3 separate regions of the Homo sapiens genome follow, and all the other regions are linked to region 3. The links come from fine-mapping of genetic effects on gene expression. A gene starts in region 3. Each other region holds a variant in brackets. All regions are shown on one strand. Distances are from middle to middle. Region 1 has its middle 47 kb from the start of KCNK5. Region 2 overlaps KCNK5 (potassium two pore domain channel subfamily K member 5). Region 3 holds the start of KCNK5 (potassium two pore domain channel subfamily K member 5).

The links.
Region 1: its variant is fine-mapped to the expression of KCNK5 in subcutaneous fat (GTEx, PIP 0.98).
Region 2: its variant is fine-mapped to the expression of KCNK5 in stomach (GTEx, PIP above 0.99).

Annotation. Positions count from the first base shown.
Region 1 is chr6:39,178,685-39,186,860 of GRCh38, forward strand. No RefSeq gene overlaps it. Among named protein-coding and RNA genes, the nearest start is that of KCNK5, 47 kb to the right of the region's middle. The variant G/A (reference allele first, on the strand shown) is at 3,638.
Region 2 is chr6:39,199,001-39,207,176 of GRCh38, forward strand. All of the region lies in intron 1 of KCNK5 (potassium two pore domain channel subfamily K member 5), which reads right to left. Among named protein-coding and RNA genes, the nearest start is that of KCNK5, 26 kb to the right of the region's middle. RefSeq lists enhancers at 4,032-5,231, 4,173-5,132, 5,133-6,092. The variant A/C (reference allele first, on the strand shown) is at 4,238.
Region 3 is chr6:39,224,855-39,233,030 of GRCh38, forward strand. KCNK5 (potassium two pore domain channel subfamily K member 5) reads right to left here and starts at 4,621. Exons shown (of 5, transcript NM_003740.4): 1 at 4,072-4,621. The coding sequence starts at 4,257. RefSeq lists enhancers at 819-1,113, 5,199-5,926 and silencers at 3,299-3,368, 4,382-4,461, 4,562-4,911.

The sequences.
Region 1 (8,176 bases), 46 kb before region 3:
GTGGGATGTTGTTGGATATTGGGGGCAAAGTGAGGAGCACAGCAGGGTCTTTTGCACCTACAGGCTTTTTCATGTTGCCTGTGCCTAGATGGGTCAAGGCTCTTTGAGTGCCAAGGAACCTACTAGTTATAAAAGGTGAAGGTCAATGTTAAGATACAAATCTCAGGAGAACCAAGGCTGGCCTGGCTCCTGTCTCTTCCTCTCTTGCCACGTGCTAAGGTTTGATTGATGGTCTCCACTCCAAAGTTCATGTTGAAACTTAATCCTCAGCGCAACACTATTAAGAGGTATGGACTTTGGGAGGTGATTAAGTGGGGCAGTATGTACATTATCGTCATTCCTTCCCTCCTGGGAATGGGTGACTCCTTGAAGTTCAGGGAGAACTATGACTGGACAGCTGTCACTTTCCAAGTCAGATCTGGACAATTTAGTTCCCTCTCTCTCCTGCTCCCTTAGGGAAACTTCAGGCAGCCACATATCTGGGATTTACCAGGGATTCGGCTTAATAGGAATAACCTCTTACATTCCTGTAGTGCTTTCCAATCCTTTGTCTCTGTCAATCTTCCCAAAATCTAGTGAAGGAGAAATATGTATTCCTGGTTTGTAGGTGAAAATCTGGCTGCTCATTGACTTGCTGAGGTCACAGGGCTATTGAGTAGGGGGATCTCATGCCAGATTTCAGACCCTCAAGCCGCATCCCTGCTGTAGGGCAGTCCTCCAGCCTCCAGGCTCCCACACTGGCGGTAAGTATCAAAAGAGTTAGAGAATCCAGCTTGGTCCATTTCTAAGGAAGAACCACTCTGAGATTCCTCCTTAACTGGTAGTGTTCCTCCTTCCTTCAGTGTCTTTTTGGTTTTGAGAAAACTCTTCATTTTGGTCCAACTGGAGCTCCCCAGTACCCCCTCGACTAAGAACAGAATGTTATAGCTGAAGGGAATTCATTCCTTCAAGGAGCATCTATTGAGCACCTCTTGCAGGCTAAGCACCACTTTAGCCATTGAATTATTAGCAAAAATCTAATGATTCACCTTTAATCCAATGGTCCTCAACCCTGGTTGCATATTTGAATCAACTGGGTTTTTTTTTAAGTGTGTCATTTAGACCCCATTCCAGCCAATGAAACCACAATCTTTGCAGGAGTAGGGGTGGGGGTGTGGTTGGGTTTCAGCATTTTATTTTAAAACTCTCTAGATGATTCTGATGTTCTCCCAGGGCTGAGAACCTTTGATCTAGTTGAAATGTGGCCTCCATCATGTTACAGAGGATACTGAGGCCCATAGAGGGGCAATGCCGTCCCCAAAGTCACAAGTCTAGGCCTAGTTCCCCTGCCTTCAAACTCTCAGTGCTGTTTCTGAAGATACTTGGTAAATATTTGTTGAAGGCATCCATGAATGAATGTGGAGTGGGAGGGAGAGAAGATGGTGAGTGTGGTAGATATATTTGAGATGCTTTCCCTACCCACAATCCCTGCTGAAGACGGGCCAGCCTAGGTGGCTGTCTTTGAACTATGTGACCCACCTTGGCAAAGCTAACTAGGAGAGGAAACCTGAAACAAGATAGACCAATGAGAGGGCCTGGGAAGGTATTTGAAATGAGGTGCCATCGCTCTCACCCTTGAGGTACGTTAGAATCCCCATTTTTCCAATGAAGAAATAGAGGCTCGGGTAGGTGAAGTGACTTGCCTGAGTCATGCAGCTAGGAAAGGGCCAAGCCTGGAATTTGAGGCAGTTCCAAGAACAACCCCTCCCCTCCCCTCTCACCGGGAAGATGGGACAGACACCCATAAAACATCTAGAGAACAAGTTAGCAGCCGCAAATGTGAAGTTACCTGCCAGGCAGAGAAGAGCAGACAAGAAAATCTGGGAGGGCGAGGACTACCAAGTGAATCTTTCTAGACGGTTAGTGTAGAATCAGGCCACCCAGTAGAGGAGACACTTGAAGAAAAGACTTCTTATGCATATCTTGGGGTGCCTCTCCTGGACAGTAGGTCAGGGTCTCTGGGGCTGAGAGTTGGGGATGATACAGTGAGGACACTTTCCACAGTGACCACTTTCACGAGCTCAAGGAAAGAAGAGAGTGTGTGATCAGGATACAGCAGGAAATCTCAAGGAAACCTAGGAGAGGGCCCAGCATCCCCTTGAAAGTCCTGGCACTGAAAGGTGTCTCCCCTGTGGCCTCCAATCCATCGCCAAGTTTGTGCCCAGACTGTGGGCTGCTCCCTGCCAGGAACGGAGTGCAGCAGGAATAGCAAGGCAGGTCAATTCCCAGGAGACATGTCTGAGACGCCTTTGGCTCTAGGACTCCCCAGCAGCCTTGCCTAACTTTCCTTAGCCTGCGTGGCAGTCTAGACTGCTTCCACCTAAGCTTCAACCTTCATAGGCACTGGGATAGAACTTGCATGGTGGTCAGACAGCGTTCCCAGCCTCTCATAGGTGTTTCCCTCAATGCAGTCCTCTCTGGTTTAATCCAGTCATGGCATCTGCTTCTTGGAGAACCTGAACTAGTAACGCACTGCAGTTCTGTGTGGGTCATTAAGGATCCCTGATTCCAACCCTTCACAATGCCTTCCTCCACCTCCTACCACAAACACAGACACAGACACACACACACACACACACACACACACACACACACACACACATGAGTATGAGAGTGGAAGAGAACAAAAGAAAGAGGAACCTTTTCCCGGGGTCCCCTTGTACAGTGCCAGGCACAGAGCCTGTCAAAAAGTAAGTGCTCAATTAAGAGCCATAATTGTTAGAGGGAGAGCACCACATGTGGCTCAAATGCCCGGAGCAGGCCTGATGGTCTGCAGGATGATGCCTGCCCTGATGGGACGGGGCTGTACTACGACTGGCTTGTGGGGTGAGACCGAGGGGCCCTGGACCTCTGTAGTAGCCACTTCTGACTGGGGCCATGGACATCCTGTGTGGAGTCATCCCTTCCTCTTCACTCGAGGGCAGGGAATTTCTAGAAGACCTTAGATTCCCTTCTGTGTTCCCTCCTTGCCTCAGTCACAGTATCCTATGTGTCAGGCTGTGTGTTTCTGCTCAGTGATATGATCTTTGCAAAGCCTTAGTCTGAATCTGACACACTCAATAGCTTTCATCCAGTTGCCAGGACCTAGTCTTTGCTGAGAGGGTCTCCCCTTTAACTATAAAGAGACCCAGGACATAGAGACTTGTCTGAAGCTGCAGTGCAGTTCAGCAGAGGGCAAGACAGCTCCTGGACTAGGCCCTCGGCAGTCTCAGAACTCCAGCTGAAGGCAGAAGTCCCTTTAAGCCTCCAGTTTGGACCATGACCCAAGAGCTTCTATGTACATTTAGGGGGCAAGTACACATAGACTGCTCACTCATCACCCCTGCAGTTAGCTCCTATGGGCCTTGAATCTTCATCCCTAATCAGCAATGGTCTGAGGCGCTCGAGGGAGTGCAAGTGACAACTTCACGAATTACATTCTCCCTGAAATCCAGAGACTGCTTCTTCCTTTCCAGGATGGACAAAACCTCACTCTCCCCTGCCCTTCCCAGCCTGCAAATCATTCCAGAGGTCAGTGCAGTGATGTGCTGATGAATGTTTAACATCTGGTTCTCTGGAGAGCAGAGATCCCTAATTGGTAGTGTTTGCCCATTTCCAC[G/A]GTGTAAATGCTTGTCCTATGGGCAATTTTTAGCTACCAATATGGTGTCACAAAACGTCAAGTTGGAAAGAGAAACACAATAGCATATCTACAGGTATTTGCATATACCTGTAGAAGATGAAAAATCACCTCAAAAGCATGAATAATAGTAAGATGCAAAATAGCTAGGAAGTGATGAATTTTACATACTTATGACCTTTGTTCTTAATACCATCTAATTGCATATTTATATAATTTAATTTTTTAATTTTTTTTAGTAGTGGCTGTGGTTTAACAACCAGCTTGCAAAATTTCCAAAAAGTTAACCACCAGCTCCCGTGAGCTGGTATAAAAGGGCTCCAGGCCACTGGGTCAGAAAATTTCCCCTGGAGTGAACTGTTGAGGGTGGGAATCTGAGCTGATAGAAAGAGGCAGGTGTCTGGCTGCTCCAGGCCTGACTGCCAGGTAGCTGTTCATTTGCCCTCAGTCACCAGCATCAGGTGTTCTAGGCAACCTTCGAGAGACTCAACAAATACAGGTCATCTGAGTTAAATAATGTGTGATGTCAACACCTAAAACGCAGCAGCTCAGCTGGCCAGAGCTGCAGGTGAAGGAATCAAAGAAGGAGGAGGAAATTTTACATTATTGATGTCAACACAGATTTCAATGCAGAATGAAAACAGGTGGGGATGGATTGGCAGGGATGTGGGAAGCTTGGAGAGACCTGACCTTTGTTTGAGATCTCCAGCCAGGTGTTCCCAGAACCTGGGTATTTCTGGGCTTTACCCCAGAGCTTCTGAATCAGAATCTTCCCAAGGTGGAGCCCAGGAATCCCCTGATGATTCTTGGGTAGTCCCTGCAGGGTTGGTTGGTCCACCTCACTGGTCTTGGAGATGAGGAGGGCAGACTCTGGGGAGTGGCTGGAGCTGCAGCCAGGACACCCTCTCTGTACACTCTTGTCCTTGAGCAGGAGAGTTTTGCCCTGGCCGGCTTACACTGTAGTTAATAGCACAGGCCCTGGATCCTTAAGTTAGAACCCAGACTCCACCTCTAGCTGTTGTATAATCACTGTGAGCCTCAGCTTCCAAACTGGGTAATAACACTGTTGTGGGATTACGTGAGATCATATGCATAAAGTATCCTGGGCAGTGCCTATAAGCATCCTGTCAATGATGGATATGGCCATTAAGGTCGTGCAGCTGGATAGTAGCAGAACCCAGGCTCTTTAAACATAGCAGGGAGAACTAGAGACCCTAAAGTAGAATGGGCTTTGATATCTGGAAGGTACGAACTTTGATGTTGCATAAGGAAAAGAGCCCCGGGTGAAGAGTTAGAAGACCCAGTGACAGTTGGTCTCAGCTCTGCCAATTATTGTGTTCGAGGGCAAAGAGTTTTAGCCTCCAGGTAGGAGATACTATTTGTGCCAGGTGGCCCAATCCCTCAGCCCACTTGGCATTTCACCGCTGCTGTAGTGCCACCTCAGGGTGCCCAGGTGTCTCTCTACCTTTCTACCTCCAAGCTTTCTCCAAAGCCCGGCAAAGGTCACATAGCTCAGGGCAAGCCCAGCCAGTGTTCCAATTATCTATTGCTGTGTAACAAACCACTCCCAGGCTTTCAGGATTATGAAAACAATCATTTATTTTGCTCATGATTCTGCAATCTGCGGGCTGGCTGGGCTCCACTCTGTATGGCATCAGCTGGGCCTGCAGTGTTCAAGATGGAATCTCAGTGGGGCCAATTCTCTCTCCATGTGCCATCTCCATGGGCGAGTTTGGGCTTCTTCACAGTGTGGGTCTCAAGGTACTTGGATTTCTTACATTGCAGCTGGCTTCCGCCAGAGCACCAAAGTGGAAGCTGCCAGGCCTTAACATGTGGGTTCGGCCAGGTGCAGTGGCTCACACCTGTAATCCCAATACTTTGGGAGGCCAAGGTGGGTGGATCATGAGGTCATGAGGTCAGGAGATCAAGAGCATCCTGGCTAACATGGTGAAACCCCGTCTCTACTAAAAATACAAAAATTAGCTGGGCATGGTGGTGGGTGCCTGTAGTCCCAGCTACTCGGGAGGCTGAGGCAGAATGGTGTGAACCCGGGAGGCGGAGCTTGCAGTGAGCCGAGATCGTGCCATTGCACAACAGCCTGGGCACTCCAGCCTGGGCAAAAAACAAACAAAAAAACAAAACACACACACACACCCACACACACACACACGGGTTCAGAAATCACAGGAATCACTGCCATATTCCATTGACTAAAACAGTCCTGGGGGCAGCCCACATTCAAAGGGAATAGACTCTGCTTCCTGTTGGGGAGTGGCCAGTTCATTTTGCAGATGAGAATGTGAGTGGGGAGATATTGTCGCAGTCATCTTTTGATAATACCGCCTGTTGCATCCACATGTATGAAAGGAGGGTGGGGATGAATTTCCCTGGGGCCATCCTTAACCAACAAGGGTGGAATTGGTGGATAAATGGTCCCTGTCCTTCAGATGGACAAATCTGAGGTGTATTCTACAGGTTTTTCAGGGGAGGTCTAGTGGGATTAAGCCCCAGTTGCCCACAGTTGAAACAGCTCTAAAATGAACATGTATGACCTTTTCCTCTTTCCCCATGTTTACCTCTACATCCCTTTCTGCTACTTCTTCTGACCATCTCCCAGTTCTAGCCTTAGGCCTTGTTTTCCTGGAAAATCAAACCAAAACATTTATTACCTCATTTGGAAAAGGCCCTTAAATTGAGGCCTGTAAAATATTGCACCTGGCTCCCTGCTGTTGCGTAATCCCACCCAGGAATGGGTGTGAAAGGGCTTTATGAACTGAGAGGCTGGGCCCGGTGTGCAGGGTTGCTGGGAGCAGAGGTAATCCTGAGGGAACCGTGGGGACTGGGGAGCTGCTGGGTTGGGAGGCCCAGCTCCCGGAATCACCTGGGAACAGTAAGAGGTGAAGATGGGGAGATGGGGCAAGTGGAAAAGGGGGTGCCAATGACAGTGCTCCCTGGGGTGGGGAGAAATAAGGTGTGCTTTATTCCAGTACTGCCCTGCAGATTCAAGTGACTTGGCACAAGATAAGGTGACTCACCAGGCCAACTCAGCCTGCCACAAGGGCCCTCAAGATCATCCACCTGGCCTTGTGGGGACTCGCCCTTCTGGAACAAGCCTTGCCCCCTGATTTGGCCTCTGCCCCAGGAAGAGAGGGACTGAATTACCAGTAGGAGGGGCCAGGCCTCTAGTTCATTTACCCTCCATTTAGTAAACATGGAAAAGCTGGGCCCCTCTCCACACTGGGCTCCCAGGAATCTGAAGGTGGACAAGCTACTCCCTGTGCCCTTTAGCGGCTCCCAGTCAGGGGAGGAGGCATAAGACCAGGAGGCAGGGAGCTGGAACAACATCAGAACAGCTCGGTGGGAGAGAGGCAGCTTACTGAGGAAGGGGCTCTGGAACACAGAGGAGGAGCACCTGGCCCAGAATCCGGGAGGGCTACAGGTAATTGTGGAAGTCTTCCCAGAGAAGGTGATATCCATATCTAATCCCACTAGGTCTCAGGACTTACCCAGGAGAGAGAGAGGAAGGGCATCAGGGCAGAGGAAACAGCAACGGCAAAGTGGCTGGAGCCCAGAGAGGTGGGAAAGGAGAGGAGGCTGAAGAGAGAGGTGGGGCGGGGGGGAGGGGGTGGAAGAGCAATGGGGAGCCCCTGAGGAGTTTAAAACAGAAAAGAAATGGGTCAGGTTTGAGTTTAGGTTGCTGGCTACAGTAATGGCCAGGTAGAAAGGGAGTCAGTATTAGAGGCAGGGAGACCAGCAGATGGGGCTCATTCATTCATTCAACAAATATCTGTGGACCCCCTACCAGGTGCCAGGCCCTACGCTGTTGTGGGAGATCCAGGTGAGGGGCCAGGTGGCCTGGACCCTGGTGATGGGGCCATGATGGATAGACGGGACAGAGATCTTAGGGAGGGGTTTTCACTGTGAAATACATCCTGACAATTCACGAGTTGTCATTGGTTCCTGGACCAGTTGTGCATGAATTTGGAAACCGGGAACCTGTTATTTCAAGAATGGAGAGATGAATGGCAGAGCTGAGACCAAACCTCAGGGGCCTCATTTCTGGAGGCCCCACCCAGAGCTGTGCAGCCCAGCTTGCCTGTCCCTCCCCACCACTCTACCCCAGACTTATGAGAGCTTCAGATGCAATGGTGGCTGCTGATTACCTTGCCTGGCTCTTTCCAGTCAGGAGGTGAAACCCAAACATCCTGGTTTCTCTTCATCACCTCTGGCAGGGAGCTAAATGTCTCCTCCAGGATCATGCAGGAGATAAGAAGCCCAGCTGGGACCCTGAGGGTCTTTCTGTGCTCTCCTCCTTGTCAGATTAGACTCCTTGAAGGGAGACGCTGTCTCTCACCTCCATCAGACTCTGGGTTCTCTGAAGATGTCTCCCCTGTCAGATCAGAAACTTAGAGGGTAGAATGAGGAATGAGAATGCAAGTCAGGGAAGCTGCTTTGCTGCCAGTTAATAGTTGTTTCAGCTTGGAAAAAATCCTATATTTGCCTCAATTTCCTCATTGTAAA
Region 2 (8,176 bases), 26 kb before region 3:
TAAGGAGGAATGTTGCATGTACCAGGCACTGTTCTAGGCAGTGAGTATACTGCAGTGAACGGACGGAATCCCTGCCCTCCTCTTATGTTTATTCTAATGGGTGATGGGAGATGCTCTGGCATTGAGAAGGCAAGGGGCTAGAGATGCTAAATGCCCTGCAATTCACAGGACAACCACACCCACAAGGCCAAAAATGCTCCCCCTGGGAAATGCTAGTGCCAAAGGTAACCTGTGATTTGGGAATCATTTAGTAAGTGCTAAGGAGACATCAAACAAAAGAACTGGCAAAACAGGGTAACTGAAGAAGGCATTAAGTTTGGGAGTGGGGAGAGGTGGAAGAGCTGGGCTTTCTACCCTTCACCCCACTGATGGTGTGCCCTTTGGGGACCAGCTGGCAGCCTCAGGCCCTGGCTTATCAGGCAGCCACAGCATTATGTGCTTTCCCCATGACTTCTAGTATCCCTCTGTGGTTGCCCAACAAGGGGCGGGCAAAGGAGGCACTGGAGAGAGCCCCTAACTCCCCGGGGCTGCAAGCACTACTCATTCCTTGCAAAGACCCAGTGGTGGCAATTACACCCACTGGGCGGAGAGAGGTTGGTTACCTGGCAGAACTGGGCTAGGTTGTAGACTGTCTGGTTTCAAGTCTGCAAGTTCAAGCCTCCCTGCCTCCATCTGCCTGGGTCTGCCTGCCCCTGGGCTGCCCCACTGCCCCTTGCGGTTGCCTCCTCTGCTGTGGTTCCCAAGCAGCTGGCCTGGGAATCAGCTCAGCTCCACCCAAGTGCTGGTGGAGAGAAGCTGTGCTAGTGCTGCTGTATGTCAGACACCCCTCGCCGGGGCTTTTACACACGTTACCTAACTGGCTCTTCCTGTCATTCTGCCAGGCATCACTTGGCAGAGGAGGAAAGCCAGGCTCAGGGAGCTGAGGTCTGGATGTGAATTTGGGGTGCTAGCTCCCTATTCCCACTGTGTGTATCTGTGGATACCTCACTGATCATGGCTGGGATTATGCAGGAAGAGGAGGGGGCTTTAATTGGTCTCCCAGAACAGAAAAGCTGACCCAGGACTAAGGCCATCACTGGGTTAGGGGAAGGGACATGGGAGAGCCAGGTAAACACCCTGTCAGACAAGGCGTCCCGTCCTCGGGGTTAGGGAAACAGCTTTCGCGGGAGGAGGCGGCCCCTGTTCACTGGCTGGATTCTTTAACTTGGCTCCCAAATTCACACGAGACAATATTTTCATTTTCCATACAAGCCTGGAGAGTAATGGGAAAAGGGGAGCCTGCACAAAGCTCAGGCCCAGCTCTTGTTTGGGAACGGAGTAGAGTTCCCTGTCTCCATCACCGTCACCATAAAGCAGCTGTGATTTACGGAGGGCTTCCTATGTGCCAAGAGTTGGGTAAAGCATTTTATGTGCCTTTAGCTCATTTAGAGAGGACAGATTCTTGCTGGGAAGATACTATAATTTTTTTCCATTTTGCAACTGAGGATTTGAGGCTTACAGAGGTTAAGAAAGTGCTAAAAACAGTGAAGCCAAGACTAGAACCCAGGCCCATCTGGGTCCTAATTGCTGTTCTCCTATCTCCTGTCCCCATAAAGGCCACAGGAAAGAGGCCTGTGCATACTCCCACCCACTTCCCACCAGCTGAAAAAACAGTGCCCTAAAACCAGTCCAGCCACTCTGACCAGCTCTCATGCTGTTGCTCCAGTGAGGAAACAGCCATGTGTGCCCTTGCCCAGAGCTTCAGATGTCCAGCTGCCCCAACCCCACCTTCCCAGGTGCTCACTGTGCTGACTGAGTAATCTTGACTCCCAGACATCCCCTCATCCCCCAAGGATCTGAGGCTTCCCTTGGCAGTGGTGGGGCATCCCCTTCCTGGAGAGAGGGATCTAGATTGGGGCTTTGGGACATGCCACCCACCTTCAGACATGGGCAGGCAGGGCAAGGTGGGGGCTTCCCCTTTACGGGGTGGGGTAAGGGAAACCAAAGTCAAGATGTTAGCCTGTTGGGATCACAGCTATCTGGCACCCATAGAGCTACTCCCGGCCCTGCCTCCAGCTCCACAGCCGCCATCACTTTAGGATCACAGGACTCTTTCTTGCTCTGCAGGATACAGCCTTAACAGTCTTCCTCCATTCCAGCCTCTGCTAGACTCCTGGATTGTCAGTGGTTCATGGGTTAATGGGTTAATGGGTTAATGGGTTCATGGGCCAACCCTCCTTTACCATTCCCAGCTGCATCAATTCTTTTTTCTTCTTTTTTTTTTTTTTTGCGATGAGAGTCTCACTCTGTTGCCCAGGCTAGAGTACAGTGGCGTGATCTCAGCTCACTGCAACCTCAGCCTCCCGGGTTTAAGCAATTCTCCTGCCTTAGCCTCCCGAGTAGCTGGGATTACAGGCAGGTGCCACCATGCCCAGCTAATTTTGTATTTTTAGTAGAGACGGGGTTTCTCCATGTCGGTCAGGCTGGTCTCAAACTCCTGACCTCCGGTGATCCACCTGCCTCGGGCTCCCAAAGTGCTGGGATTACAGGCATGAGCCACCACTCCCAGCAATCAATTCTTAATTCACTGTGTCAAAGCTCACTTGGCCCTGCGGAGGGATGGTAAAATTGGGCCCTGGAAGGGAAAATAGAGCTGACCCTCTTATGTGCGTGTGCTTGGTAGTACAGAAAGAAACTTATCATTCCTCTCACCTCCCTTCCCAGCAACCTTGTAAGGGGTGTGGGCATGGCTATTCATTCTTATTTCATAAATAATACATTGATATTTAAGCACTTATGAAGACAAGCACCTAAATCCAAGCACTTTACTTATCTCACAAAATGCCAGTACCCTCTAAAGTTTACTGTATTTTAGTTTAAAGTATTACTACCCCCATCTTACAGAAGCATTTGCCCAAGGTCACAGAGCTAGTTAGTTGTGGAGCTGGGATGAGGGCCCAGGTGGCTTCTAACCTCTGCACTATCTAGAGACGGGGGTGAAAGGCATGCAGGTGAGCTTCTAGGTGCAAGTGAAACGGCCTACCAGGCAATATCCACAGACATGCAGAGACTCCCCTAGAGTGCCAGCTTCATGGGGACAGGGCCTTTTGTTTTGTTTTTCACTGATGTATTCCCCAAACTTAGAACACTGCCTAGCACACAGTAGCTATTCAACAAATATTTACTGAATGAGTGAATAAATACATTTAAATAAATAAGGGTATATTCCCTGGCCTCAACTAACTTGTCCTCTAGTGCCCCTCCATCCCCAACCACTTCCAGCATCGTTCTGCAGTTGGCTTTTCACTAAATTCATCAGTTAAACAAGGTGGAAGCCTGAAGAGCAAGAGGGCAGGAAGGAGAGGCACAGACCCCAGCGGCGGCGGGGCTCACAGGGGCTGCTGAAACCACCAGCCTCCAACTGGTCTTGGGTTGCAGAGGTGGGGATCACCAGGTTGAGAGGAGAGGGCAGGGGGCAGGAGCTGGGGAAGGGGCAAGGTGAGGGAGGCAGACAAGAGCCCAGAGGAGAGGGTTCAAGATGGGAGAGTAATCAGCAGTGGAGTGGGAGAGGTCCCTCAGGTGACTGGGACTGTCCTTCCTGCAGGGAGGCCTGTCCCCTTGGGAAACTCCACGAGGGCAGTAAATGTACCGAGAGCAGGCAAAGGAACAGAAGAGTCAATAGAAATTGCACATCTACTTCCAGCTGACCACTTTCCTTACTGAATCCCAAAGCCCCTCCTCTCTGAGGGCACTCAATCAATCCCATTGGCAGCAGGGCCTCTGCAGCTCAGGTTTAGCTCTATCTAGGAAGCCACAGGGCCATCTTCCAAATGCAGACCTGTGCTCATGGAAAAGGTGGAACCAACCTGGATTTGAATCAGAGGGGTCTCTCGATGGCTGGCAGCAAGCCTCTGGGTAAATAACTCAGCCTCTCAGCCTTACTTTCTCTGTCTGTAAAATAACACCTACTCTGCACACATGAAAAGAACCTAGGACTCAGTAAGCACTGGATAAATGTATCTGCAATCAATATTGTGATTCACACGTGTGTCCGTCAGGAACAAGACCCTGCAGAGATCTGAGACCCAGGAGCAAAGCTGCTCACCCCCAAAGCTGAAGCAGATGGGCTGGCATGTCCTGGACAAGCAGTAGAGAAGGACTAGGGATTTCAAGCCCTGTGCCTGGAAGACAGGAAAGGGTGAGAACACTGTCCCTAACCTTCTTCACAACTGCCAACTCTTCCCATTTCCCCATTTTA[A/C]CAGAGAAAACTGTCGATTTTCAGCCTGATCCATCAGCTCCCTCAGGCCACATGGAGGAAGGGACTGTGGTTCCAGAGATGTTCCCTGGCCACCTGATGGCTGGGAGTCAGGGGCAGAGGGAAACGGGCAAGCCCAAGATGCCTCACCCCATCCCTCAGAGGCCCCATCTCTCCTGGCCTCTGCCCCTCAGAGGCTCACAGCCACCCTGGCCAGTTTCTCGTCCAACCAAGCAAGTTGGGCAGGGCTGCTGAGGGAAAGAAATGCCACCACTGGTCCCATCCTGTCTTCACCACTTCCCCCCCATCACCCCTGGCAGCCGCCAGTACCTCCCCAGGTGAGGCTGAGGCCAGGAGGTGTTAGATGGCAGCTTCTCTGAACTCTAGTCCAACTCCCTCCCAGCCCCCACCCAGCGTGAACATGAAGCAAGACAATGGGCAGTGGCTCTCGGTACAGGCTGCCCAGTAGATCCCCTTGGAGGTTAAATAAATGCTATGCCTGGTCCCCAACTGCAGATATTCTGTTGACCTGGCACAACTTTTAAAAAGCTCCAGAAGTGATTCTAATATGCAGGGGCTGCCCTAGTGGAAGCTGACAGGGGGAGGGAGGCTCAGGCCTTCTCCATCTTCCTGTCTAAAAAGGAGTATGCAGGGCAGAGAGAAGGAATTCTTGGTATTTTCCTCACTGCCTCTCCCCCCGGGTCAGGTGACCAGGGTGTGGCTCGGAGGGCAGCTGTAGTTTACGAGCAAGGTATTGGCAAGGGCCCAGTGGTGCCACCCTGATACCTGCACCAGCAGCCAACCCAGCTCGCCTGAGCTTTGTCTCTCCCAGGGAAGGAGCAGATACTGGACGAAAGGCAGCAGGGCCACACCCGTCTCCTCGAAGACCAGAGCTGGGCTGTTGCAAAGCGGACTTTGTTAACTTGTGGTTGCTTATCTCTTTTCTCAGATTTGCTCTGATATCTATCTGGAGTATGGATCACATTTGAGAAGAAGGCAGGCAGGCCAAATCAATGGCTGGAGGCTTTGGTGTGCTAGGACGTCGGCGCAGGGCCTAAAAACCCAGGCTCAGCTCAGCTCTGCCAGTACTGTCTTGAGATCCTCGAAGAATCTTTGATTGCTTTGCCTGCCTGCTTCTCTGTACAATGAGGAGGTTGGACTATGACTACTGGAGTCCCCCTGCCTGGGCAGGTGATACCTCCCCTACCTCCTCTCCATAGCACATTCAAGAAAATGCATTTCTATCCTCAGGACTTAGCTCATCAGTCACCATACTACTTCTTAACCTGGACTACAAACTGAGATCATCTGAGAGAGCTTGGAAAAATACTCCTGCCCGGGTCCTGCCCCTAGAGATGCCAAGAGAAATAGTCTGGGGCTTGAACTGCGAACCAGGATGCTGCAAAGCTCCCCCAGGTGATTCTAATCTTATGTTCAGCCAAGTTTCAAACGCACTGCCCTAGATCCAATCCATTCTCCCTCATTAGGGACTTGAGCGCAGCCCCACCCCTGACATTAGCACGGGGCAGGCTGTGCATGCACACAGGCAGAACTGTCCTCTTGTCCACCTTTGGGCTTCCCCCAGCCTGCCCTCCTGGGCCATCTCTCAGCAGTCTCTGCAGAGCCCAGAGGCACTGCTAGGTCTCACGCTCAGGAGGGCAAGCCCCTGCCAGATGGGAGCAGGTTTTCAGCAGAAACCCTGGGCTTCTGACTTTCACAGGCCTGGGAGCCCTGTCCTCACTGGGAGGAACAAAGAAAACAAGGCAGGTGACCCTGCCCGCATTGTTCTCAGGCTGGGACGGTAATCCCCCAGGGCAGGGGGGCAGCTGGGCATCCCTCCTGTGAGAACAAGCCCAGGGCAGAGCTGACCTGAGGTTGCAGGTTTGGCTAAGGCAAGCAGTGAAGGGCTGGTGGGGCCCAAGCTCAGGATGGAATGTCAGCGTGAGCTCTCAGGCACCTGGAGGGCTGAGCTGATCAGTGACTGACACTGGAAATCCCTGTGCGGGCAGACACAGGGGACCTCGAGGGCCCCTTCCTGGTCCCACAGCACTGCTGTGTGCCTGAGAAGTGGGCCTGGGGAGCAGGAAAGAGCCCCCTCCCTCTCAAACACACATACCAGATGACCCTCTGAGGCCATGCTCTCAAAATCTACCCCTGCCTCATCTTCTCAGGGAAGGTGGGATGTGTCCAGGGAGGCTTAAATGACAAGAGGGACATCCTTCATTTACCTATAGCTTCTCTACCCCAATTCACAACCACTGCCCTGCCCAGGGTGGCTATGGCCCAGGTCCATGGTCCTGTGCTGGTGTCTCTGCCCTATCTGGGACACTGAGGCCTGGATTTGTGACTTTGTCCCCTTCTCTGCCCCCAGAGTTCAGATCCCAGGGGTGTCTGACACCTCTCTGCCCTGAGCGATGCCAAGGGGTGTCTCCCAATTAGTGGGACAACAGTGTCAGTAGGGACAGGAAACAGTTTTAGCTGGGATCCCTTGAGCCTGTCCAGCTGGGCAGAGCAGCCTCCTCCATTCCTCCATAAGGCTGTGGGTCACTAGGAAGAGGCCTTACTTCTAAGGTGGGGTTAGAGAGCTCTAGCCCAAGCCCCTGCACTTGGATTGGGCCCCTGGCACATTGTCCTTTCCAGGGAAGCCAGCAGTGCTCTCAGGCCTGGCTCATTCCTCCCCGACTTGGTTAATAAGGGCCTGAGTTAGCATTTCCCCACCAAAACCCCACATTCATCAAGCACCTCTCACACCCATAACTCCTCTTCCACCGTCTAATCTGAGACCTAAGACCCTGAAGGGAAACCAGACAAAATGGATACACTATTCCCATTCTGTAGATGAGGAATCTATAGAGAGGCTAGAAAGATGGTGAAGCCAAACAGAAAGATGGTGAAGCCAAACAGCAAGCTGGTGACCCAGCAGAGCAGGTGAGGCCCTGTCCACAGAACAACCAGCCCTCCACTTGCCACCCGGAACTGGGCTGAGAAACACCAACCAAAGCACAGCAGGGAATGTGCAGGTAGACACTGGTGACATAGCAGAGATAAAGGGCTGTGCTGTGCGGTCATACCCACGGATCTGACCTGACTATATGAGTTAGGGTAAGCGCGTGCCTACGCTCCCTACCCCATTCCCCTGCAGATGCCTCAGATTTACCTTGACCTTGGGGTGGGGTCAAGGATCAGCTACAGGAAGCCACCAGCCACTCAAGGTTTCTAAAAACAGTCCTTGGAGCAGGCCAGAAAGGTGGCTGTGGGAACTGCTGACTCATCACCTTCCCATCCCGGGCCAATGACCTGAGGGAGGTGCAGTTCCCGGGCCGCCCAGCTGCCCCTCGCGTGCTGGCCTGCTTCCTGTCCTCCCAAACCCAGCTCTGCACTGGCACACAAGCTGGGCTGGCCAGTCTCTCCAACACAAATATCAAGTGTGGGGCCCTCTCTGAGCAGCACAGGGGAGAGGGCAGAGGGGAAAGGCCACATCTGGGTTCAAAATCCTGACTCCAGCATCCACTAGCGGGTTACCTGGGGCATGTCTTATCACCTCTCTGAGCTTAACACTCCGTATCTGGAAAACAAGAGTCATGGCTTCACTGTGTTGGCGCGTCGATTACAAAAAAATGATGAACAGCTCAGTGCTGGGCACATGGGGCGTGTTCCAGAAACGAGCACTGGGAAGGAAAATAAATGTGACTATTATTGCTCTGTGAATAGAACAAGGGGCTTGGGGAGGACACCTCCATTCTGAGGGTCTGTGTCTGCTGCATGTGGCCTCCAGAGCTGGGGAGCTGGGCTAGGTGTTGACAGCAATGCCCTCCTTCCATTTACCACCTCCTGGGCATGGGCCAGTCCCTCCGGCTCAGCAGTTCACCCCCCTGTGCCTTTGCAGGTGCCTTCCTGCAGCTCACTCTTACTTCAATCAGGTTTCACCTGAATGTCCCCTCC
Region 3 (8,176 bases):
AGGAGTCTCTTCTCCCTTCCTTTACCAGTTAGGTTTTTTTTTTTCTTTAATCTTTTTTTTCTTTTTTTGAGACAAGCTCTTGCTCTGTTGCCCAGGCTGGAGTGCAGTGGCGCAATCCAGGCTAACTGCAGCTTTGACCTCCCAGGTTCCCAGCTGTTCTTTCTAATCCAAGACCCCACTCTGGCTTGAGGTCATCTCCTGAGAGCCCTCCCTGACCCCTCAGGCTGGACCAGACCCTCGTTAAGCGACCTCCTGAAAACCTCTTCTGTAGCCCACACCCACTGTCTTGTTCCCAGTGGGTTTATGTATCCTTTTCTCCAGCAGCTCGGAGTGTAGCCTAATTCTTTGTATCCTGAGAGTCTTGCCCAGTGTCTGGCACATGGTGGATACTTAATAAATGCTTGCTAATTTCCATGTACTTTGAAACATGAAACTTAGATGTGAAAACTGACTCCGCTCTATGTGATCCCAGACAAGTTACACTGGCTTTTCCCCTAATTTTCCTCATTTATGAGGTGGCCTGCAAGATTAAATTAAAATAAGAATGTATATAAAGTGCTTATTCAAAGTGGTCTGGTGCACGGTGGGCTCTCAAATCCTTCCTGTTTCTGATCACTGCCCACCAGAGGCAGAAGGTTGAGAAGGGCTGTCCTTCCTCCCCTTCAATCACACCCCCACTGTTTTTGGTGGGACAGGGGTTGGGGACTTCCAAAATGAGAAGCGCAGAGGGGTGGACTGATGTATTACTTCAGTAACAGAGGTGCTGGGTCAGCCAGGCAACAACACAGGAGACGCCTGTATGCCATTACCTGTGCTAGGGGAAATAGAAAATAGAATTTTCCAGCAGATCAGGGTCCAGCTGAACCAATTTCCTAAGCTCAGTTACAGAGCAACAATCTTCACAGGCCCAAGAGGGAGGTGCAAGCTCCTGGGGCAGACTGCCTGGTCATTGCCCCTCCCCGTCCCGCCCCATAGGCTGTGCCTCCTGTGGTGTCCCTGTGGCCATTCTATCTTCTCTGGGCTTCAGCTTGCTTACTTGAATACATACTGTAAAGAGTACCTGAAATAAGGCAGGTAGGTAAAGCTGCCTTCCTCAATAAATGCTAAGGTCAGGAGACCTGTTCACTTTTTATAGACATCTTGCCTAATGTTTCTACTCTATTGGAGCCTCACCAAACACTCATTTTGCAGATGAGGAAAGGAAGGCAAAGTTAAGTTACATGGCTTGATGGGTAAATGGCCGAGCCAGATGGCAAAACCAGCCTGTGCCCTCTCTCATAAAATGAGGATAATAGCACCCACAATGCCCAACACAGAGTAGGTGTGCTGTAAATGTTAACTTCCCTTGTGTGAGTCTGCAATTTAGGAAGAGGTTGGGAGAATGAGTCACCAAAGATCTTGCTTGAGAGCAAGGGTTCAAGATGGTTCTGAAGACAGGAAAGAGGACGATCACGTGGTCCCAGGCTGGCGGGTCACTGAGCACTTGAAAGTCAGCCTGCACCTCACTTCAACCACAGCGGAGGGAAGGAAGTATCTGACAATTCGGGGGGTATTTCTAAAGAAAGTTGACTTAACTCCCTTTCTCACACATTTGAAAGAGCACACACAACTTTCAGGGTAAGAGAAACCCCAACTCAGACTGCACCCCATCTCTTCCAACAATCTTTGTCCCACCCCTGGTTGTACCCCAGGAATTCCTAGCTAGGGGCTCCTTCATGATTCCAAGGTGATTCAGAACCAGCTAAAACACAGAGCGTCAGGTGGAAAATGCCCAAGCAGCCAGATGGGAAAGAAGATTTTTGAGTTTTCATTTTTCCTTAAACCAATATCCTGAGGCCTGAGGCAGTACCCCAAGTCACAAGAAAGCAGAGCAAGGCAGATTTCTGCAGATTAAAACTGATGTCAGCAAATGCTTCTACTTGTCCATTTTCATTTCTTGGGGTTTTTCCTATGACGGGAAGGGACTCGCCCAGTTGGGGTTGGTTTGGGAGTTTCTTTGGCCGGGGATGAGGACAGGGCTGTCCTTGTTCAAGAACTTATCTATAATAGCCTCCAAAGCAGACTGGCTTGATGCCCAAGTCCTTTTTCTAAAAATTACCTGCCCATTACTTTTTTTTGGTAGGGGGGTAAATGTTGACAGATTTAACAGGACTGCTAAATAAGAGGCATTTTGTTTGTTCAAATACCTTAAGAAGCCGTCTAGCCTCCAAAGCTATGACCACCAGCTGCACCCGGCTGCCTAACCCCTGGACCCCGCCCCCCCCGCCGTATGCCCCGCCAGCCTTTCCCTTTGCCTTGTGTTTTGAAGTTTATTTTCCCACATTTAGCCTTGAATTCTTTCCTTCCTTCCCCTGCAGTGTTGGAGCAACAGCTTAGAGGGAAACACTTCGAGGGCAGCTCAAGGCTTTATCATCCTTGCCTGCCCTCTTCCCCCTCTAAACAAAGCCCTGGAACAAACTAAACAAAAACTTGTTCTCTAGAGGAATTGTTTCCTCAAGGGAAATCATAAAGCAACCCCCTCCCCACAACACACCCCCCAGGGTAGACGCCCATCAGAAGGAAGCCATGTAGACTCTTCATGCCAGGACTCTTGCTGTTAGGAGGTAAACCAACCAACCATCTACTGAAGCTTATCCTCCCCACCATCACCTCCCATCTGCCTCTACCCGGGAAACTGCTACAGGGCAAGAGACTCTCCACTAAAATCCAACACTAAGCCTGCTAGACTAAACCTCCCCTTCTACAGGACCCCTTGGAGGACAAGTCTCCCCACACACGGCTGCCAGCAAATACGTATATGCTTATCTGTGTGATGTCCATCAATCTGGGGACAAGATTTTGATGTTTTCCAAATGCTTCCAACCTAACAGTCCGTGGCAGAAATAAGGAATGAGGATGGGCTCATTCCCGTTTCTCACATGGGGAAACGGAGGCTGGAAAATGAGCGACGACTAGATAGGCATAAAGTATTGAGGTGCTGCTGTAGACTAAACGTTGCTTCTCATCAGACCTCCTTTCTGGCATCTTTCACCCTGAGAGCAAGGTAACACCCTGGACAATCTACCCCTACTCCCTACCTGCTGCAATCTAGAACTTTCACCCAGGTCCTGGTCATTCCACTGGGGGAGCAGGCCAAGAAGAGTTGATGGTTGAAGCTGAGCCCTCGAGAAACTGGGGTAGAGGGCCTCGGTCCCCAAATGGGCCCCAAGGTCTCAGCCAGGATAGGCAGCCCGTTTATCCAAAGTGAGGTCAATGCCACCCATCGGGCTGTGCACCAGAAAATAAGCGGTTCCCAATGTCAGCACGGAGGGAAGTCCCCCACCCACCCCAATTCCGCACACACTCTCCTCCCCCATCATAAAGGGACTACGCGGGTATTATTCGTTTGTGCAACCTGCTACTTTCACAAAGTTTTACTCCAAGCCCTTGAAGGATGTCTCCGCGAGATAAGCCTTCCCGGAAGCCTGAGCGCGTCCCCAGCATTCCAGGCACCAGCCCTCATCCCGTGGGTTCGGGCCCCACAGAGCCTCCAGCTCCTCTCCGGAACTCTGCTGGGGGCGGAAGATTTTGCCCAGGCTCGGGCTGAGGGACCCTCCCGCCACTCTGCCGGGTTCACGTTCCTTAAGAAAAGCCTGGCAGGCGTGGCACTGGCCCTGGAGCGGGGAGGTGGAGACACGAGGGGATGGCACCAGGCTTGGCTCCCAGACTCCGGGAGCGTCTCCAGGGAAAGATAAACGCCTTTATCCGTCCCACAGCCTCTTCCCAAGGAGGGAGGTACCGTCACACCCACACTGAAACACCGTGGAGCCTAGTTCACCCGGGAATCAACTCCAATTTGTCTCCGGCCAAACTAAGTTCCAAAGAGTCTCCGCGCCTGGGGGACCCCTGTGTCCCTCGGGTGAGCGACAGATCCTCGAAGCCTGACCCATGATGAGACACGCTCTCTCATCACCCCCTGGACCTTCCACAGGGACTGAGGGTCACCCAAAGCTGTGAAGGGGTCTTCCTTTCAGCGCCCCCTAAAGCTCAAGCCAGCTTCAGATGTATATGGGGGTACAGGCGGCGACTGACCTCTAGGATCTTGTCCAGGCCCTCCTGACCCAGGCACGGGAACTCCTTGAGCAGATGCAGCTTCTGTGTGTAGTAGTTTTTCTTGGCCTCCTTCCAGTGTGGCTCCTCCAGCACTTCGAAGATCGCCGCCCCGATGGCCAGGTAGAAGATGATGGCCGAGGTGAGCAGAGGGCCCCGGTCCACCATGGCTCCCGAGCGGCCGCCTCCTAGAGAAAGCCTCTCCTAGCCCCAGCTGCTACCAGTCCGCCCGCCCTCCAGCCTCTGAAAACAGCTGTTTGAATTTGGAGCTCCGCATGCGCAGTGCCCGGTACTCACCCCCCGCAAGCACCGCTCCCCGGACAGAGTTGCTTGGCCAAGTTGGCCCACGGAGTGCGGGGAGCTGCGTGGGGCCCCACTCACGCGGCCCGGGGTGGGCGAACACCAGCGGGGCTGAAAGGGCGCCCTGGACCGCGGATGCGTAAGGAGCGGGAAGAACACAGGACTTGACTCTGGGCAGACACGTGGGCCGCTTCTCCACGCGTCGCTCCTCCGCGCGCCACTAGCAGTATGCGCCGCGCCCGCCTCCGCACGCCTCTTTAACCAGCGCCCGGCGCGCTCTGCCCCCTTGCTCCGGGCTCCGACCGGGGAGGAGCCCAGGCGGGCCCCGCCCCTTCCCCGCACAAGCAGCCCGGCGAGCGCAGGAGTGAGCGCGAGGTGAGCGCTAGAAGAGGCTTGGCGCTCCCCGCGCTCCCAGGGTCAGCCGCCAGGGGAGGCTGCGCCGCCCGCCCAGACCTGCACGCCCTGCGGTGCCCGAGGGGTTGCGGTCTCAGGGACTCGTGTTTGTTATTAGGACTGGCGTGTTAACTAAAATGATTGTGACTGAGGTCAGGAGTTTATTGCTTTTGTTATTTTTATTGTAATTCCATTTTCATTTACTGATGTTTCTTCCAAAAAAGTCTAATGCTCAGTCTCTCCGTGTCTCTCTTCCACACACTTTCTTGTAAGCCTGAGGAAGGGGGTTAGAACGGGGCTGAAGAAGCTGTAGGGAATCAGAGGACATCAGGAACTAATCCAGCCACCCACGCGTGATTCCTCCCCCTCACCCCGTTCTCACCTACCCGGGTGAGAACCCTGCATCTGGAAGGAGTGGGCAGCTCAATTCGTGGCACCCCTGTGCGCCCCCCCAATACACAGTATCTCTACGGGAAACACTTGGCCTCTTTTCTTTTTTTCTTTTCTCTTTTCTTTTCTCTTCTCCTTTCCTCTCCTTTCCTCTTTTCTTTCAGACGGAGTCTCACTCTGTCGCCAGGCTGGAGTGCAGTGGCACTATCTCGGCTCACTGCAACCCCCGCCTCCCGAGTTCAAGCAGTTCTTCTGCCTCAGCCTCTCAAGAAGCTGGGACTACAGGCGCACGCCATCACGCCCAGCTAATTTTTGTATTTTTAGTAGAGACGGGGTTTCACCGTGTTGGCCAGGCTGGTCTCAATTCCTGACCTCAGGTGATCCGCCCGCCTCAGCCTCCCAAAGTGCTGGGATTACAGGCGTGAGCCACCGCGCCCGGCCCACTTTCATACATATGCTCCAGCTGATTTAAAATTCCACCCCCGCCACCTTATCTCCCTCGTTGGCTTTATGTCCTTCCTAGTACTAAATTCCCTCTGCTATATTATATAACTTTATTTATTGTTTACTCTGTATTGTGCCCTCTCCCCGCCACACACACACAGACACACACACACACACACACACACACACACACACACGGAAATGTCTGCTGGGGAGATGGAGAATCTGTCTTGTGTAATGATGTATCCACAGTGCTTGTTACATACATAGCAGACACTCAATAACCATGTGTGCAATGAAGGAGTGAATGAATTTGTTAAAAACAGGTGCCCAGGATGTTTCTAACTCGCCTTGCTGCCATTCTCTGAGCTCTTGTAAACCCCAGGAAGTACTGAATCCCTTCCATGCATCATAAGCAGGCCCTGTCATTCGACCCACTTTGCAGTGAGGAAAAAAGCTCAGTGGGTTAGTTTGTTCAGTCTTTCAACCAGCACCAGTCAGAAGTTGGAGGGGGAACCTCCTTTCAGTGCTCTGTACCAGGGGCTGGCCCTGCCCTTCTCTGGCCTCTGTAGGGGCAGGTACTGGAGTGGCCAGAGTCCCTGAGCACTGTCCCCTGGCCAAGGCCTTTTCTTTCCATCGAGAAGAAGGGGAGTCATTTCTCACCTCCTACCCACCCTGTACCCAGGCTGTGGCCTGAACCCCAAGGTGTCAAGAGACACTTTACTTGGGGAGGGGGGTATCTGTACTATCTCCAAATCTGGCTGGAATGGAGGGGTTAGGGATACAGTTGGAAGCATTGATCTGATTTTGCTGATGTTTCTGTCTCTCCTTATGGCAACATGAGCGTGTCCAGAGAAGAAGACCAGAGCAGGAAGCTGGGGAGCCCCAGATTTCCTGATACTGCATCCCTGAGGTGTGCAGTGCCAGTCCCCTCAGGACCCCCCTGGCCAAGGATCATCCTGGACAAGGCCCTGGGGGTGCTTCTCTGTAGACAACCCACTCCCAGCACCAGGCCTCTCACCCAACCCAACATATCCATCTTCTCTAAGCCTTGCTGACCTCCTGCCTACCCTGTCCCCCAGGCTGTGGCCTGAACCCTAGCTCTGCAGTCTCATTCTCCAGCCCTCCAGCTGGGATGGAAACCAAGCATGGGTTCCGGATCCCCCCTCTCTGGATGGAGTTCACCCTGTTTGTGAAGAGTTCAGGGCTGCAGTGTGAACGCTTCAGTGAGCATGGGGTGGGGGCAGTTTGAGAGGCCACAGGCCCTCTCTTTGTTTGGAAAATTCCCTACCATTCCTCTCCCACCTCCGGTCTGTGTTCTCTTCCTAAGAAAATAAAGGGCCTCTTCCTATTTCGGTCTCACAGCCTCATGAAAATGCTGAACACTTTGAGATGAATTGATTTTTATTCGAGGCCTCTGTATGTTGTAGTTTCTTTGTCCTTCCACTCTGTTTCTGCATTTCCTGTCCCCTTCTTCCTTCTTGCTCTCCATGTGGTGCTGACTGACTCCTCATCCTCTCCTTCTGTCGCCGCATCCTTTGCTTTCCTGTATTTTTCCAAAGCTCCTTCCCCAGCTCTTCATTCTCCCTCCTCCTGCCTCTCTCCTTTGTCTCCATCCCAGTTGAATGTGCTTCCCCTCCCCCAACTTCCCCTCCCCTCCCCATCTCCCCACTCCCCTCTCCAACTCCCCTGCCCCAGCCAGATAGTTGGATCAACTTGACCTTCTGTAGATCAGGGGCACACACCTGCTCTCTGCACAGCAGCCAGTGGGGGCTTTTATAAAATGTAAACTGTGCTGAAACTATCGAATATTTAGACAACACGAGCCTTAAGATTGGAAAAGGGAAAAGTGGGTAAATGGGAATGAGGTGATGTGAGATATATATTTTCCTACAGGGCTGATAAATAAATCCATTCCAATAGCATACGTGTAGTTCTTAGTATTATGATTATTGATCAGGGTTGATAATAATTTCAGAGTGCAACCTTTTGGAAGGCAATCAGCTCTGAGGAATGTAAACCAACAATAAAATTCTAGGCCCCTCCCAAGCAAGCAAATGGACCCTTCCTCTTGACCAAGGGCATTCTCAAGTAAACACAAAACACTAGTTCAGGCCATGATGGAATGGGTGGTTGGACATGGCTCCTTTTTTTTTTTTTGAGAGGGCGTCGCACTCTGTCACCCAGGCTGGAGTGCAGTGGCACAATCTCAACCCACTGCAACCTCTGCCTCCTGGGTTCAAGCAATTCTCATGTCTCGGCCTCCCAAGTAGCTGGGACTACAGGCATGAGCCACCACGCCCGGCTAATTTTTTGTATATTTAATAGAGATGGGGTTTCACCATGCTGGCCAGGCTGGCCTCAAACTCCTGACATCAACTGATCTGCCCACCTTGGCCTCCCATAGCACTGGGATTACAGGTGTGATCCAAAGCGCCCAGCCGACATGCCTCCTTATAACTTCCTCCCTTTGGAATTCAGGCACAGCTGACCAGCATTAATATTAAAACAGAGACCTTAAGGCACAACCTGGCCAACATGGTGAAACCCTGTCTCTACT